Regions from separate parts of the Homo sapiens genome. Here region 1 is linked to region 2. The links come from fine-mapping of genetic effects on gene expression. A gene starts in region 2. The other region holds a variant in brackets. All regions are shown on one strand. Distances are between the middles of the regions. Region 1 overlaps AP5S1 (adaptor related protein complex 5 subunit sigma 1). Region 2 holds the start of CDC25B (cell division cycle 25B).

Region 1 (8,807 bases), 35 kb before region 2:
AAAACACAGTATGGGCCGGGCGTGTTGGCTCACGCCTGTAATCCCAGCACTTTGGGAGGCCGAGGCGGGCGGATCACCTGAGGTCGGGAGTCTGAGACCAGCCTGACCAACGTGGAGAAACCCCATCTCTACTAAAAATACAAAATTAAACGGGCATGGTGGCGCATGCCTGTAATCTCAGCTACTCGGGAGGCTGAGGCAGGAGAATTGCTTGAACCTGGGAGGTGGAGGTTGCGGTGAGCCGAGATCGAGCCATTGCACACTTCGGCCTGGGCAACAAGAGCGAAACTCCGTCAAAAAAAAAAAAAAAAAAAGAATAAACACACTATGTTTGCACTATGAGATACATTCTAATAATGTTACTGAAATGTAAAGATGAATCTTTGGGGCACTCAGGCAGAAAGATCAAGTATAAAGGCTCTAAAAAGATTTTTTTTTTTTTAGACAGAGTTTCGCTCTTGTTACCCAGGCTGGAGTGCAATGGCGCAATCTCGGCTCACTGCAACTTCCATCTCCTGGGTTCAAGTGATTCTCCTGCCTCAGCCTCCCAAATAGCTGAGATTACAGGTATGTGCCACCACGCCCAGCTAATTTTTCGTATTTTTAGCAGAAACAGGGTTTCACCATGTTAGCCAGGCTGGTCTCAAACTCCTGACCTCAGGTGATCCACCCTCTTTGGCCTCCCAAAGTGCCGGGATTACAGGCATGAGCCACCGTGCCCAGCCAAAAATAATTTTTTAACATACAAGAACTCAAAAATATTGTTCTCACGAAGTCATGTAAAAATAGGGAATTAAGAAGGAAAAAAAGTGAAACTACAGATTTCTAGAAAATGTCAACAGTGAAAACACCACATCAGAACATATGGGATACAACTAAAGCTGTATCATAGGAAAATTCATAACTTAAAGACTAATGTCATTTTCTAAGACTGCAAACAAATGACTTAAGCACCCCTAAAGAGGTATGGATATACTAAATGAAAACAGAAGGAAACAGTTCATGAAAATAAAAGCCTAAAATAATGAGGTAATGCTGGGTTTTATTTCTTTTTTGTTTCTGTTTTTGGAGACATAGTTTCACTCTTGTTGCCCAGGCTGAGTGCAATGGCGCGATCTAAGCTCACCACAACCTCTGCCTCCCGGGTTCAAGTGATTCTCCTGCCTCAGCCTCCCAAGTAGCTGGGATTACAGGCATGCACCACCACATCCAGCTAATTTTGTATTTTTAGTAGAGACAGGGTTTCTCCATGTTGGTCAGGCTGGTCTCAAACTCCCGACCTCAGGTGATCTGCCCACTTCGGCCTCCCAAAGTGCTGGGATTACAGGCGTGAGCCACCACACCCAGCTGGTTTTTATTTCTTAAATGAAATGACAGGTACTTGGATGCTCATTATATAATTCTAAGCACCTTTTTGTAAATGTGAAATATGGTAGTTCACAATAACTTTTAGGTTTGCTAAATTAACTATAATCTAGCCACATGATGGATAAGAACTTAAAAGAATACAGATGCTGTCTCTGTAGTGCTATGACAAAAATATCCAGGATACACTGGTGAGTGAAAAAAGCAAGTGATGGCCAGGTGTGTGGTGGCTCACGCTTGTAATCCCAGCACTTTGGGAGGCTGAGGTGGGTGGATCACTTGAGGTCAGGAGTCCGAGACCAGCCTGGCTAACATGGTGAAACCCCGTCTCTACTAAAAATACAAAAATTAGCCAGGCATGGTGGTGTGCACCTGTAATCCCAGCTACTCAGGAGGCTGAGGCAGTAGAATCGCTTGAACCCGGGACGTGGAGATTGCAGTGAGCCGAGACTGCGCCTAAGTAGCTGGGATTACAGGCGTGTACCACCATTCCTGGCTTATTTTTGTATTTTTAGTAGAGACGTGGTTTCTGCCATGTTGGCCAGCCTTGTCTTGGACTCCTGACAGAGGGAGGGAAGGAGGGACGGAGGGAAGGAAGGAAGGAACGAAGGAAAGAAGGAAGGAAGGAACGAAGGAAGGAAGGAAGGAAGGAAGGAAGGAAGGAAGGAAGCAAGGAAACTACAGACCAGTATCTCTTGTGAACATAGATGCAAAACTCCTCAACAAAATAGTAGCAAATCAAATCCAGTAATGTATAAAAATAATTACTCAAAATGACCAAGCGGGATTTATTCCAGGTATGTGAGGCTAGTTCAACATTTGAAAATCAATTAAGATAATCAATTACATTGACAGGCTAACGATGTAAAATTGCATTATCATACCAATAAAAGCAGAAAAAGCATGTGGCAAAGTCCAACCACCATTTACAATAAAAACTCTCAACAAACTAGGAAATAAGAGAACTTCACAAGTTGATAAAGAACATTTACAAAAATCATACTTAATGGTGAGAAACTGGAAGCTTTCCCACTAAGGTCAGGAACAAGGCAATAATGTCCTAACAACTCATTTTCAATGTTGTACCAAAAGTCCTAGCTAATGTAGAAAATCTGAAAGAATCAACAAAAACAAACCAACAAAAACTCTTGGAACGAATAAGCATTACAGCAAGATTGCAAGACACAACATTAATATACAAAAGTCAATTGCTAAGCTGGACGAAGTGGCTCATGCCTGTAATTCCTGCACTTTGAGAGGTCAAGGCAGGCGGATCTATTGAGTCCAGGAGTTTGAGATTAGCCTTGGCAACCTCCCTGTAGGAAGACCTTATCTCTATTAAAAAAAGAAAAACTCAGCCGGGTGTGGTGATTCACACCTGTAATCCCAGCATTTTGGGAGGCTGAGGTGGGTGGATCACTGGGTCAAGAGATTGAGACCATCCTGGCCAACATGGTGAAACCCCGTGTCTATTAAAAATACAAAAATTAGCTGGGCATGGTGGTGCGCACCTGTAGTACCAGCTACTCGGGAGGCTGAGGCAGGAGAATCGCTTGAACCCGGGAGGTGGAGGTTGCAGTGAGCTGAGATGGTGGCACTGCACTCCAGCCTGGGCAACAGAGCGAGACTCCGTCTCAAAAAAAAGGAAAAAAATGGTGCCCAGGCACGATGGCTCACGCCTGTAATCCCAGCACTTTGGGAGGCCAAGGTGGGTGGATCACTTGAGATCAGGATTTTGAGACCAGACTGGCCAACATAGTGAAACCTCGTCTCTACTAAAAACACAAAAATTTAGCTGGGCATAGTGGTGCACATCTGTAATCTCAGCTACTTGGGAGGCTGAGGTGGGGGGATCACTTGAGCCCAGAAGGCACAGGCTGCAGTGAGCCAAGACTGCGCCACTGCACTCCAGCTTGGGCAACAGAGTGAGACCCTGTCTCAAAAAAGAAAAAAAAGTCAATTGCTTTCACTTATACAAGCAATCAGCAAGTGCAATGTTTTTTTTTTGTTTTTTTTTGTTTTTTTTTTTTTTGAGACAGAGTTTCACTCTGTTGCCCAGGCTGGAGTACAGTGGCGCGATCTCGGCTCACCGCAAGCTCCGCCTCCCGGGTTCATGCCATTCTCCTGCCTCAGCCTCCCGAGTAGCTGGGACTACAGGCGCTCACCACCACACCCAGCTAATTTTTTTGTATTTTTAGTAGACACGGGGTTTCACTGTGTTAACCAGGATGGTCTCGATCTCCTCACCTTGTGATCCGCCCGCCTCAGCCTCTCAAAGTGCTGGGATTACAGGAGTAAGCCACTACGCCCAGCTTTTTTTTTTTTTTTTTTTTGAGACAGTTTCACTCTGTCACCCAGGCTGAAGTGCAGTGGCATGATCTCAGCTCACTGGACCTCCACCTCCCAGGTTCAAATGATTCTCCTGCCTCAGCCTCCCAAGTAGCTGGGATTATAGGCATGTACCACCACTCCTGGCTAATTTTTGTATTTTTAGTAGAGACACGGTTTCTGCCATGTTGGCCAGGCTGGTCTCGGATTCCTGACCTCAGATGATCTACCCACCTTGGCCTCCCAAAGTGCTGGGATTATAGGCATGAGCCACTGTGCCCAGCCAAGTGCAATCTGATATTAAAACCACATTACCCACTTTGGAAGGCCAAGGTGGGAGGATTGCTTGAGCTCAGGAGTTGAAGGCCAGCTTGGACAACATAGCAAGACCCTGTCTCTACTAAATATTTAAAATTTAGCTGGGTGTGGTGGTGCATGCCTGTGGTGGGAAGATCACTTAGCCAGGGAGGTCCAGGCTGCAGTGAGCTGTGATCACACTACTGTACTGTAGCCTGGGTGACAGAGTAAAGACCTTGTCTCCAAAAAAAAAAAAAAAAAAAAATATATATATATATACACACACACACACACACACCACACACACACATATATATATAGATATATATATATGAAGAAAAAAGTTAAAGATTGACACTGCCTGACTTCAAGACTTACTATAAAGTTACAGTAATCAAGATAGTGGGCCAGGTGCAGTGGCTCACGCCTGTAATCCCAGCACTTTGGGAGGCCGAGGCGGGCAGATCACAAGGTCAGGAGATCAAGACCATCCTGGCTAATACGGTGAAACCCCGTCTCTGCTAAAAATACAAAAACAAAATTAGCCAGGTGTGGTGGCGGGCGCCTGTAGTCCCAGCTACTCAGGAGCCTGAGGCGGGAGAATGGCGTAAAGCTGGGAGGCGGAGCTTGCAGTGAGCCGAGATTGCGCCACTGCACTCCAGCCTGGGCGACAGAGTGAGACTCTCTCTCAGAAAAAAAAAAAAAAAAAAAAAAAAAACCTTGAAAAAAGATAGTGTGGTGGCCAGGCACAGTGGCTCATGCCTATAATCCCAGCATTTTGTGAGGCTGAGGTGGGCAGATTACCAGAGGTCAGGAGTTTGAGACCAGCCTGGCCAACACGGTGAAATCCCATCTCTAACAAAAATAGAAAAATTAGCCAGGCATGGTGGTGCATGCCTATAGTCCCAGCTACTAGGGAGGCTAAGGCGGGAGGGTGGCTTGAACCTGGAAGGTGGAGGTTGCAGTGAGCCAAGATTGCACCATTACACTCCAGGCTGGGTAAGAGTGAGACTCCATCTCAAAAAAAAAAAAAAAAAAAAATAGTGTAGTATTGGCAAAAGAATAGACAAACAGATTAATGGAACAGAATAAAGAACCCAGGAGAGACCCACATTAATACAGTCAACTGGTCTCTGACAAAGGAGTAAAAGCAATACA[A/G]TGGAACAAAGATAGAAAGACTCTTTTCAAGAGATTATGTTGGAACAACTGAACATCCACATGCAAAAACATGAATCTACACATAGACCTTACACCCTTCACAAAAATGAACTCAAAATGGATCATAGACCTAAATGTAAAATGCAAAACTGTAAAACTTCTAGTAGATAACATAGGAGAAAATCTAGATGATATTGGATTGGTGATGACTTTTTAAATACAACAGTAAAGGCAGGATCCATTTAAAAAATTGACAAAGAGCTGGGCATGGTGGCTCACGCCTGTAATCCCAGCACTTTGGGAGGCCGAGGCGGGTGGATCACCTGAGGTCGGGAGTTCGAGACCAGCCTAACCAACATGGAGAAACCCTGTCTCTACGAAAAATACAAAATTAGCCAAGGGTGGTGGCACATGCCTGTAATCCCAGCTACTCAGGAGGCTGAGGCAGGGGAATTGCTTGAACCCGGGAGGCGAGGTTGTGGCGAGCCGAGATTGCACCATTGCACTCCAACCTGGGCAACAAGAGAGAAACTCCGTCTCAAAAAAAAAAAAAAAAAAAATTGACAAACTTCATTAATTTTTTTTTTTTTTTTTTGGAAACAAAGTCTTGCTCTGTCACCCAGGCTGGAGTGCAGTGGCACAGTCACAGGTCAGTGCAGCCTTGACCTCCTGGGCTTAAGCAATCCTTCGACCTCAGCCTCCCAAGTAGCTGGGACCACAGGTGTGCACCACACTCAGCCAATTTTTATATTTTTTTGTAGAGATGAAGTCTCTATGTTGTACAGGCTGGTTTCGAACTCCTGGGCTCAAGCAATCCTCCTGCCTTGGCCTCCCAAAGTGCTGGGATTACAGGCCTCATGAGCCACCTCGCCCGGCCCACTTCATTAAATTATATGAAACTGGACTTCATTAAATTTAAAAAGCTCTGCTTTGTGAAAGACACTGTCAAGAGAATGAGAAGACAAGCCACAGACTGGGAGAAAATATTTGCAAAAGGTATATCTGATAAAGAGCTGTTATCCAAAATACACAAAGAACTCTTAAAACTCAACAAAAAGAAATCACCCAAACAAGTTGCCTGTTTTAAAATGGGCAAAAGACTTGAACAGACACCTCACTAAAGATTTACAGATGGCAAGTAAGCATAGGAAAGATACTCTACGTCATGTTATTAGGGAACTGCAAATTAAAACAAGATTTCACTACATACCTATTAGAATGGCCAAAAGCCAGCCGGGTGCAGAGGCTCATGCCTGTAATCCCAGCACTCTGGGAGGCTGAAGCAGGCAGATGACTTCAGGTCAGGAGTTTGAGACCAGCCTGGCCAATATGGTGAAACCCTCTCTCTTCTAAAAATACAAAAATCAGCCAGGCGCGGTGGCGTGTGCCTGTAGTCCCAGCTATTCAGGAGGCTGAGGCAGAAGAATGGTTTGAACCCGGGAGGCGGAGGTCGCAGTGAGTGGAGATTGTGCCACTGCACTCCAGCCTGGATGACAGAGCGAGACTCTGTCTCAGAAAAAAAAAAAAAAAAATCAGCCAGGCGTGGTGGCACACGCCTGTAATCCCAGCTACTCGGGAAGCTGAGGCAGGAGAATTGCTTGAACCTGGGCAGTCAAGGTTGCAGTGAGGCGAGATAGTGCCACTGCACTCCAGTCTGGATGACAAAGGACACTCCGTCTCAGGAAAAAAAAAAAAAAAAAGAATGGGCCAAAACCAAAACAGTGACGAAACCAAATGTTTCAGAGGATGTAGAGCAACAGAAACCCTCATTAACTGCCAACAGGAATGCAAAATGGTACAGCCACTTTTGAAGACAGTTTGGCAGTTTCTTACAAAATGAAACATACTCTTACCACAGAATCCAGGACTCATATTCCTTGGTATTTATGAGTATTTATACTCCCAAAGGAGTTGAAAACTTATGTTCACACAAAAACCTGTACACAAATGTTTGTAGCAGTTGTATTCATAATTGCCAAAACTTGGAAGCAACCAAGATGTCCTTCAGTAGGTGAACAGATAATGTACATCCACATAATGGAATACTATTCAGCAGTACTTCCAAAATGAGCTGTCAAGCTCATGATTCAGCCATGAAAAGACTTGAAGGAATCTTAAATGTACATTACTAAGTGAAGGAAGTCAATCTGAAAAGGCTACATATACAGTATGAATCTAACTACACAACATTCTGGAAAAGGCAAAACTATGGAAGCAGTAAAAGGATCAATGGTTGCTAGGGGTTGAGGGGAGGGAAGAATGAACAGGTGCAGCAGAGGACTGTTCGGGCAGGGAAACTCTTCTGTATGATACTATAATGGTAGATGCATGTCACTGAAAATACATCCAAACCTATAGAATGTACCACCCCAAGAGTGAACCCTAATGTAAACTATGGACTCTGGTGATAGTGACGTGTCAATGAAGGTCCATCAGTTGTAACAAATGACCACTCTGGTGCCCAGTGTTGGTGATAAGGGAGGCTGTGCATGTGTGGGGACAGGGAGTAAATGAGAACTCTCTGTACCCTCTGCTCAGTTTTACTGTGAACCTAAAATTGCACTAAACAAATAAAGTATATTTAAGAAAACGGTCACGGCCACTTGAATTGCAGTAATAAACATACAGAGACTTGGTTAACGGGTCACAGAGTATTGAATCTGACAAACACGGTTAACTGCATTACAATAAAATATAGGAATAATTGTTTAAAAGAAAAGATTGAGGCCAGGCATGGTGGCTCACACCTGTAATCTCAGCACTTTGGGAGGCCAATATGGGTGGATCACCTGAGGTAAGGAGTTCGAGACCAGCCTGGCCAACACGGTGAAACCCTGTCTCTACTAAAGATACAAAAATTAGCCAGGCATGGTGGCACATGCTTGTAATCCCAGCTACTTGGGAGGCTGAGGCGGTAGAATTGCTTGAACCCAGGAGGCAGAGGTTGCAGTGAGCCAAGATTGCACCACTGCACTCCAGCCTGAGCAACAGAGTGAGACTCCATCTCAAAAAAAAAAAAAAAAGAAAAAGAAAAGAAAACATTGAGCCCTGGGGGGATGCTGGACAGTGCGCAGCACCACAGGGCTAGAAAAAAACACCCTGCCCTAAAGGAGACAAGATGATCCAATCCCATCCCAGGGCTCACATACATGCAGTGTATGTGACCCAATCAGTGACCCACATACATGCAGGCCAGTTCCTGCCTTAAAACCTGTGACTTCATGCCAGTCAGTCGTGGTGGCTCACGCCTATAATCCCGGTACTTTGAGAGGCCACGGCGGGCGGATCACAAGGTCAGGAGATGTAGACCAACCTGGCTAACACGGTGAAACCCCGTCTCTACTAAAAATAGAAAAACTTAACCGGACGTGGTGGCAGGCACCTGTAGTCCCAGCTACTTGGGAGGCTGAGACAGAATGGCGTGAATCTGGGAGGCGGAGCTTGCAATGAGCCGAGATTGCGCCACTGCACTCCAGCCTGGGCAACAAAGAGAAACTCCGCCTAAAACAAAACAAAACAAAACCTGTGACTTCTTCCTCCTTCCAGGTAAGCTCTCTTCTCTGGGCTCTACTGCCCTCCTGTCATCATCTGTTGTCCCAGGAGTGTTTGTGGAGGTACACTGGTAACACTACTAGCTGCTCAAAGTCTCTAGTTCTCTC
Region 2 (8,807 bases):
ACCTACCTACCTCTGAAACCCCATCTCCTACAGCCTGCCTGGGGACACCCAGCTGGGAGGTGATCCCTGAATGCATCCTGCTCATCTACCCCATGCCTGGCTAGCATGCCTAAGCCTCAGTCAGGCCTCGAAGACACTCACCGGCATAGACTGGAAGCGTCTGATGGCAAACTGCTCGCTACAGGAGGAAATGGGGACAGGTGAGAGCTGGGAGAGGCAGGGCAGGGACCAAGAGCATGCAGCATGCCCTTCTGGAGCCCTGTCCTAAGGGAAAGCTTGTGGTAGATGGAAGAGGCCCAGGAACACTTACTTTCGAATGATCCGGCTGGCTGCCTGGATGGCCTGTTCAAACCTAGGACAGAGAAGGGTCCCATGCAACCCATGCTCCCTCCGCACCCATCACCCACCCCAGCACCAGGCCCCCAGTCCAGGGGGGAGTAAGGGCAAAGACAAGGGCCAAGGCTCAAGGCAGTGGAAGGGGTGGGGTGGGAAGAACGCCCACCATCAGGGGGCCCAGGTATTGGGGAGGGGGAAGATAAGAGGCAGCTTGGAATTTTAAAGGCTGCCCTGAATGAAAGAAAGCCCAGAGAATGGCAGTGATAGAGACAGCTGGGGCAGGTCAGGGTCAGGGAGGCGTCACCAAGGCAACAGTCTCGCCAGCCTGCACCAGGCCTTCCACCTGTATGCAAATCACCTCAGCGGGGCCATATGGCTGCCAGGAAAGGCATCCATCCATCCTATGATAGGCCAGGGGCACCCAGCAATGTGGGTGTCTCCAGGGCCTGGACAACAGCAAGGCTAGGCTTCCTCTCCCCTGTGAGGAGCTGGCCTGGCTCCCGGTCCTCTGAGGACTGGGGCCTGCTTTAGGGCTCCCCCAGTCAGCTCCAGTCTGATACAGTAGACCCCCAGTGACAAACGTGCAGGCTCACATCCTCTCCTCCCTCCTATGGAATTTTCCAGGACCAGCCTCTGTCCCACCCCCTCCTCCTGCCTTAGAAGAGGCCAGCAGGCAAGGAATTCCAACACATGTTCCCTCTGAGGCCCCGCCCCCTCAGCCGTGTTACAGGAGACCACCTGCCACGCGGAGCTTTTGTGCATCTACGCGCGCGCGCGCACACACACACACACACACACACACACACACACACACACACAGCTTCTGAGAAACTCTGTATAACTGTCAGAGCAGGTGCAGGGCAGGGAACCACTCAGGGATAAAGTATGAGGGGGATGCCCCCCCGGGGGGCTGCTGTGCCCAGCCAACCTGGCATCAGGGATGACCAATTTCATTGGCTTGCACATGGGCCTTGGGGGTAGGGCAAGATTGCTCTGTGCTGCCACCAAAACCAACCTGCAGTCCCCCAACCCCACCCAATCCTCTCCCCATTTCCTGTTTGTGAACCAATCTGCAGCCCAACCCAGTCTGATCAAAGGCAATGGGAGGTAAGACAAGTCACTATCCTAAACCCAAAGCCACAGTCCCCAGCACAGGCCAGAGATGCCCAGCTGTCCCTACTAATGGCTGGCAGCTGCCCCGCTGCTTGGGCTTTAACAACTGGATGGGAACAGCTGTGCTCTGGAAGACACCACCCATGCCCACAGCCAAGGGGATGGTCTGTCCAGGCCAGAGCCCACCAACTCTCTCTCCATTCCCTTGCAGAAAGGGCCTAGACCAGGGCTGGCCAGAGGGTAAAGTGTCATCGAAGTCAGAGGTTGCTGATCGGCCAAGAGCCAAATCAATCTGCAGGCAACTGTGTTTTGTTTGGCCTAGAGTGAGTTAAAGTTTTGAATTAGTTGGATCATATTTTTAAATTGTAATATTTCACAGAAAAAAATGGGTATAGGCAAGAAAGAAAAACGGGACATACGCTGGGCTTGTATTCCTGCAAGACATGGGCTGTAGTCTAGTATCTGCTCTCCCAGTGGCCACTGTCCCCACTATCCCTGGCCCTGAGCCCACACTCGGTTGGCTCCCATGAGAGCAGATCCTTCTCTGAGACAGGGAGCAGAATGCCAAGGCCTGAGAAAGTCAGTGAGCCCCCCGGCCATGGGGATCCTGAAGCCACCCCATGGTCTGTCTGCTTTCCCAGGCCTCCCGGGTGAATTTATGGTAGAACTAGGATTCTTAAAGACAGGTGCTGAATGCTTGGAAGTACACATTCCCTTCTCTACTCACGTCTGCTCCGCCATGTGGGGGTCCATAGGGCTGGGGGAATCCATGCAGAGACCTGAGGGGACAGAGCACCTTGGTTTGAAAGTAGTGGCACTTTCTGTATTCTTTCCCCCACCATGTCCCAATATGAAAAAAAAAAAAAAAAAAAAAACAGTTTCTAGTTTGGACTTTGACACATTAGAAAATGAAACAAAAACCCAACCATGGACCCTGAGAGCTGACACATCGTCCCCCAGACGGTACAGGGCTCCACTCCCTGTTTACTATGGAAATTCCTTCATATGCGTCTTTAAACCACAATGCTCACTAAGCATTTTTCTTGAACTGGTTTAAAATAATTTGTTCTAGAAGAGACAACAGATTTTTAAAGAAGAGGTTATAGGCTAAGAATGTTTTAAAGACCAACTCTCAGCCCTGGGTGCTTCCCAGGTAGGGTTGTGGTTTAGGAACTCTGGAGCGTGGTTTTACATAGGTAAGATCTCATCTCCGTAGAGGGCCCCACCCTCTCATCCACTCAGCCAGTCCGCGTTGGGTGTGGTGAGCCCCACAAGAGGTGTGTCTTCCTCCCATTTCTGTGGAGGGTGGGGGAGAGGCTCCTGGGCCCACCAGGTTGTGGGGAGGATGTTAGTTTGATCGGCAGGGAAATTGGGAGGCCCAGGCAGCCCCCACAAACTCTCCTGACACAGGCAGATCTCCCCAGGCTCCCCTGGGCCTCACCTGCATCAGAAGATTCGGAGGATTCAGACGACAGGGAGGATTCGGATGCCCGTCGAGACAGGGATAGGTGCGTCAGGCGGCTGCGGCTGCGGAAGAGCAGGGTCCCTACCTGACTCTTTGGGGTTTCGCTGGGAAGGGAACAGGGACCCGGGAAAGGAGAAAGGTAAACGTGGGGCTCAAGGCCTGGCTAGCCCACGTTCCCACTCCCTTGCTGAGAAAAGAACTGAGCGAAACACTACACCGGGAAAGCAATGGCCCTGAGGGCCCCCTCTTCTCAGGTCAAGGAAGGTTCATTCTACAGAGGCCCTAAAGCGTCTTCTCTTCGTTGACTGGTTTAGGAAAGGTCCTCTCAGGAGCAGGGCAAGGTGAGCCCAGGGTGTGAGCAAGGCTGCCTGGCTGGAGGCCAGCCTAAGGGTTGGTGGTCTAGCAGAGCCGCCCCAGAGAGCCTTCCCCTAAACTGTCAGACCCCCACCTTTCCAGGACCCTTCCTGAAGGATGGACCAAGACCAGGTTCTCCTACTGGAACAACCCAGCTCTCCCCTTGCAGACTTAGGGAGCAGGATCAGTGTTTAATTAATTGTCTTAATTCTGGGGGCAGAACTGGGGTGGAGGGAGCAGGGGCATGGATGTGTGAGTGCTCCACGGCTCTGCCACCCTTAAGTTCCCTCTCCAGGCTTGAGATTCCCATCCTGGGGCAAAATGGTGGCTATCCGGGCAGAGATTACGGAGGCAGCGTGGTGGAGGCACAATGAGGGAGGAGGGAGTGAGGGGAAAGAAGATTTGGAGAGGCTTGTGCAGACTGAGAGCAGGTCACCTGGAGGTGTGGGGGGCACAGCCCAGGTCTCACTTCCCATGTCCTGGGCCCCTAGGAGGGAACAAGGGCGTACCTCTCCACTGCTCAGGATGCCTCCCCGGACTCCACCTCCTGGATTCGACTACCATGCCCAGTTCTCCAGGAGGCCCAGGACTCCAGACCTAGCCTCTCACCCCCATATGCAGCCTCCTTGGGGTGTCCTACCTGCCGAGCCCGGCGAGGTCGTGCATGGTCTGGGTGAGGGTGGTGACCGGCGAGGAAGCGGCCGCCCGCACCGGGGACCCCAGGAGGCCATGAGATCCCAGCAGGAGGCCCGGGAGGTGGCCCGGACGCTGGGCGCCACCGCACACGCCTGCTGGACTGAGAGCCGAGCCTGGCGCGGGCTCCGGCTGGGGCACCTCCATCGCGGCGGGGCCGGCAGAAGGCTGGCTGGAGGGCCGGGCGCAGGGCAGCCAACAAACGCCGGCACAGCTGGCTGGGCCGAGGGAGGCAGCGGGCGAGGGGTGGGGGGGGGGGGAAGGAGGGAGGGAGGAAGAGCCACAGGGCCAGGCGCGAGGGAGGAGAGGGATGCGGGGAGGGCGGGGGGCGAGGGACGCCGGGCTCAGGCACCAGCCAGGGAAGCCTCTAGTTGCAGCTGCCACTTCCACCTCCTTATATATTCGAAAAATAACAGCAGCCGCGCCGCCGGACGCCACCAATGGGGTAGCGGGTTAGATGAGGGCGGGACTGAGGGCGGGGCCCGCAGGGCAAGAGGCGCGGAGGCTGGATTTCCAGGCTTTGGGTGGGCCGGAGGAATTAAGATTTATCCCACACCCTCGCACATCCCCCTGGCGCGAGGATCCCGGCCTCCCAAAATCCGCCTCTCGCGACATGGTTTGGAGCTCCACACTCCCAAAGGCAGCAGCAACGCCCTAGGGTGGCCTCCGCAGGACCCCCCGCGGCATGTCGTCACCTGGGATCACCGCTAGGGATGGGGAGAGGCTCCAACTGGCTCCCGGAAGTTTGCTAAACCCAGCTGGGCTGTACGGTCTGCGTTAGACACCCCATTTTACAGACCTGGACGCTGAGGCGTGAAGTTCATTAACTCAATCAAGGTCACGCGGTTGGGCAGGCGGTGGGCCAGGATTCGCTCGCTCCAGGCGCCTCTGACCGCGCAGCCTCCCCGCCTCCGCGACTGGCTGCGCTGAGCAGCAGCAAAACGTCATTCGCAGGAGAAGCGCCCAGCGTAGGAGGTGGGAGGGCAGTGGGGCCCCCAAGCGGAACTGATGGGCTCTTTCGCGGGACCCCAGGTTAGATGTTACCCCAACCGGCCCAATTTTCGCGGCAGCCCCAGGAGAGGCTCTAAACGGTGGAACTAGGAATGGATTTCCGCGGCTGGGGGTCGAGGAGGGTGTCAGCAACCAGAGAGGCGAATTAAGTATCACGCCCATTGATGATTTGGCTAACTTGGTGCCAATGGCACCATATTATTTAATTGGTGTTTCTTTGATGACCAGACCAGGGAGGCTGAATTTGTCATTCGTTTTAAGCGGAGCAGCTTCCAATTATCTTTCTTTTTGTTTTGTTTTGTTTTTTTTGGGATGGAGTCTCCCTCTGTCAACCCGGCTGGAGTGCAGTGGCCATCTCTGCTCACTACAACCTCCGCCACCCGGGTTCCAGCGATTCTTCTGCCTCAGCCTCCCGAGTAGCTGAGACTACAGGAGCGCGCCACCACGCCCAGCTAATGTTTGTATTTTTAGTAGAGACGGGGGTTTCACCATATTGGCCAGGCTGGTCTCGAACTCCTGACCTCGTGATCCACCCACCTAGGCCTCCCAAAGTGCTGGGATTACACGCACGAGCCACTGTGCCCGGCCCATCTTCCAATTATCTAAATGCCTTCCAGCCCCGCTCGTTTTCCAGGCCTCCTGGAACAAGAGGCCTGAAGGCTGCACCCAAAAGCCGGTGGGTAGTGAGCAGCTTTCGCATCCTGTCTCCCCAGGTTAGAAGTGGCCTCTGGCTGGGCGGGTGGTGGTGCGGGGGGCGGGCTGCAGCTCAGCAAGGCAGGAGTACCCCTTCTCGTGCAGTCCCAGCCACCCAGACCCAAGGTGCATTGGATGGGGGTGGCAAAAGGGAGGGCCTGGTGATGGGGGGCTGGGTGGGCCAATGCATCTGAAGGGTAGGGGAAGACCCCAGCCCCACCTGAGAGGGGTGGCCAAGGTGGGAACGTGACCTTTCCTTTTCTCCAAATTTTGCCCAGCTCCTGTGCTGTGCAGAGGGCTCTGCAAGACTGAATTTCCGGTTCATCCTCCCTGGGTCAGGGGTTATGCCCTGGACCTCCAGCCACTACTTCCAGTGAGGATGTGACTGCCCTTAGTGCCAGGAGGGAAGGGGGAAGTGTCCTTGTAAAGCCACCCAGCCCAAAAACCAGAAAAAAAAAACTGCCCCGAGATTTGCATTTTCAAAATAAACACAACAGGTATCCCCCCCACCCCCCACCCAGCCAATATACATCTGCACAGGGTGTATGTGGCAGGGCAGGCATTATACTATTGAATCCCTTGAAATCCCACAGTCAAAAAACACATGAAAAAATGCTCATCATCACTGGCCATCAGAGAAATGCAAATCAAAACCACAATGAGATACCATCTCACACCAGTTAGAATGGCAATCATTAAAAAGTCAGGAAACAACAGGTGCTGGAGAGGATGTGGAGAAATAGGAACACTTTTACACCGCTGGTGGGACTGTAAACTAGTTCAACCCTTGTGGAAGTCAGTGTGGCGATTCCTCAGGGATCTAGAACTAGAAATACCATTTGACCCAGCCATCCCATTACTGGGTATATACCCAAAGGATTATAAATCATGCTGCTATAAAGACACATGCACATGTATGTTTATTGCGGCACTATTCACAATAGCAAAGACTTGGAACCAACCCAAATGTCCAACAATGATAGACTGGATTAAGAAAATGTGGCACATATACACCATGGAATACTATGCAGCCATAAAAAATGATGAGTTCATGTCCTTTGTAGGGACATGGATGAAATTGGAAATAATCATTCTCAGTAAACTATCGCAAGAACAAAAAACCAAACACCGCATATTCTACTCATAGGTGGGAATTGAACAATGAGAACACATGGACACAGGAAGGGGAACATCACACTCTGGGGACTGTTGTGGGGTGGGGGGAGGGGGGAGGGATAGCATTAGGAGATATACCTAATGCTAAATGACGAGTTAATGGGTGTAGCACACCAGCATGGCACATGTATACATATGTAACTAACCTGCACATTGTGCACATGTACCCTAAAACTTAAAGTATAATAATAATAAAATAAAAAAATAAAATAAAATAAAATAAAATTCTCTAAAACCAAAAAAAAAAAAACAGAAATCCCACAGTCAGGTCACCTCTGGGCCAGTGAGGGGGGAGGTGGGCAAGACCACAGAGGGGTTCTGGGTTTTTTTGTTTGTTTGTTTGAGATGGAGTCTCGCCCTGTCGCCCAGGCTGGAGTGCAGTGGCATGATCTCGGCTCACTGCAACCTCTGCCTCCTGGGTTCAAGCGATTTTCCTGCCTCAGCCTCTCGAGTACCTGGGATTACAGGTGCCCGCCACCATTCCTGGCCAATTTTGTATTTTCAGTAGAGACAGGGTTTTGCCATATTGGCCAGGCTGGTCTCGAACTCCTGACCTCAGGTGATCCACCCACCTCGGCCTCCCAAAGTGCTAGGATTACAGGCGTGAGCCACTGCGCCTGGCCCACATACATAATTTAAAATATTCTAGTAGCCACATTTAAAACAGTAAAAAAGAAACATGAAATTACTGTAATATTTTATTCAATGTAATGTATTCAAAATATTATTCGACATGTTATCAATATAAATTAATGAGATATTTTACATTTTTGGATATCAAGTCTTCAAACTAGTATGCATTTTACACCCCCAGCACATCTCAATTTGTACTTGCAACATTTAAAGGGCTCAATAGTGCTGGCACTGTGGCTCACACCTATAATCCCAGCAACTCCAGAGCCTGCTGCAGGACAATTGCCTGAGGCTAGTAATTCAAGACCAGCCTGGGCAATATGGTGAAACCTTGTCTCTACAAAACATTTTTTAAAAACTTAGCCCGGTGTGGTGGCCCCTGCCTATAATCCAAGTGACTCGCTGGGCACGGTGGCTCACACCTGTAATCCCAGCACTTTGGGAGGCCGAGGCAGGTGGATCACAAGGTCAGGAGTTTGAGACCAGCCTGGCCGACATGGTGAAAACCTGTCTCTACTAAAAATACATACATTAGTTTGGCCTGGTGGCACCGACCTGAAATCCCAGCTACTCGGGAGGCTGAGGCAGGAGAATCGCTTGAACCTGGGAGGCGGAGGTTGCAGTGAGCCTAGATCATGCCATTGCACTCCAGCCTGGGCGAAAAGAGCAAGACTCCGTCTCAAAAACAGACAAACAAACAAAAAATCCAAGTGACTCTGGAGGCTGAGGTAGGAGGATAGCTTGAGCCCAGGAGTTTGAGTCTGCAGTGAGCCATAATTCCACCACTGCACTCCAGCCTGGGCAACAGAGTGAGACTTTGATTCTAAACATAAAATAAATAAATTAATAGTTCAATGGCCACTTAGGGTTAGTGGCTGCAGGTCTATATCTTTACAAGCGTAAATCCGTCTGTATTTTAAAGAATATACAAACAGCATATGAACATTGTTCTAGGCTGGCATGCTGGCTCACACCTGTAATCCCAGTACTTTGGGAGGCCAAGGTAGGTGGATCACCTGAAGTCAGGAGTTCAAGATCAGCCTGGGCAACATGGTGAAACCCTGTCTCTACTAAAAATACAAAAATTAGCCAGGCATGGTGGCATGTGCCTGTAATCCCAGCTACTTGGGAGTCTGAGGCAGGAGAATCACCTGAATCCAGGAGGCGGAGGTTGCAGTGAGCCAAGATCGTGCCACTGCACTCCAGCCTGGGTGACAAAGTGAGATTCTGTCTCAAAAATAAATAAATAAATAAAAATAAAAACCACTGTTCTATACCTTTCTTCTTCTTACTTGGAGATGGATCCATATTAGTACCATAACAATATATATTT

What was found. PIP is the estimated chance that this variant, and not a neighbour inherited with it, causes the effect.
Region 1: its variant is fine-mapped to the expression of CDC25B in whole blood (INTERVAL, PIP 0.98).

The regions. Positions count from the first base shown.
Region 1 is chr20:3,827,128-3,835,934 of GRCh38, reverse strand. AP5S1 (adaptor related protein complex 5 subunit sigma 1) reads right to left here. Exons shown (of 3, transcript NM_018347.3): 3 at 7,097-8,807. Among named protein-coding and RNA genes, the nearest start is that of AP5S1, 11 kb to the right of the region's middle. RefSeq lists an enhancer at 4,459-4,959. The variant A/G (reference allele first, on the strand shown) is at 5,149.
Region 2 is chr20:3,791,833-3,800,639 of GRCh38, reverse strand. It overlaps CDC25B (cell division cycle 25B), which reads right to left and starts at 4,330. Exons shown (of 16, transcript NM_021873.4): 1 at 3,909-4,330; 2 at 2,891-3,018; 3 at 2,177-2,228; 4 at 311-352; 5 at 142-178. The coding sequence starts at 4,108. RefSeq lists silencers at 1-138, 3,739-3,946, 4,013-4,192, 4,233-4,302 and enhancers at 884-1,178, 4,533-4,692, 4,603-5,334.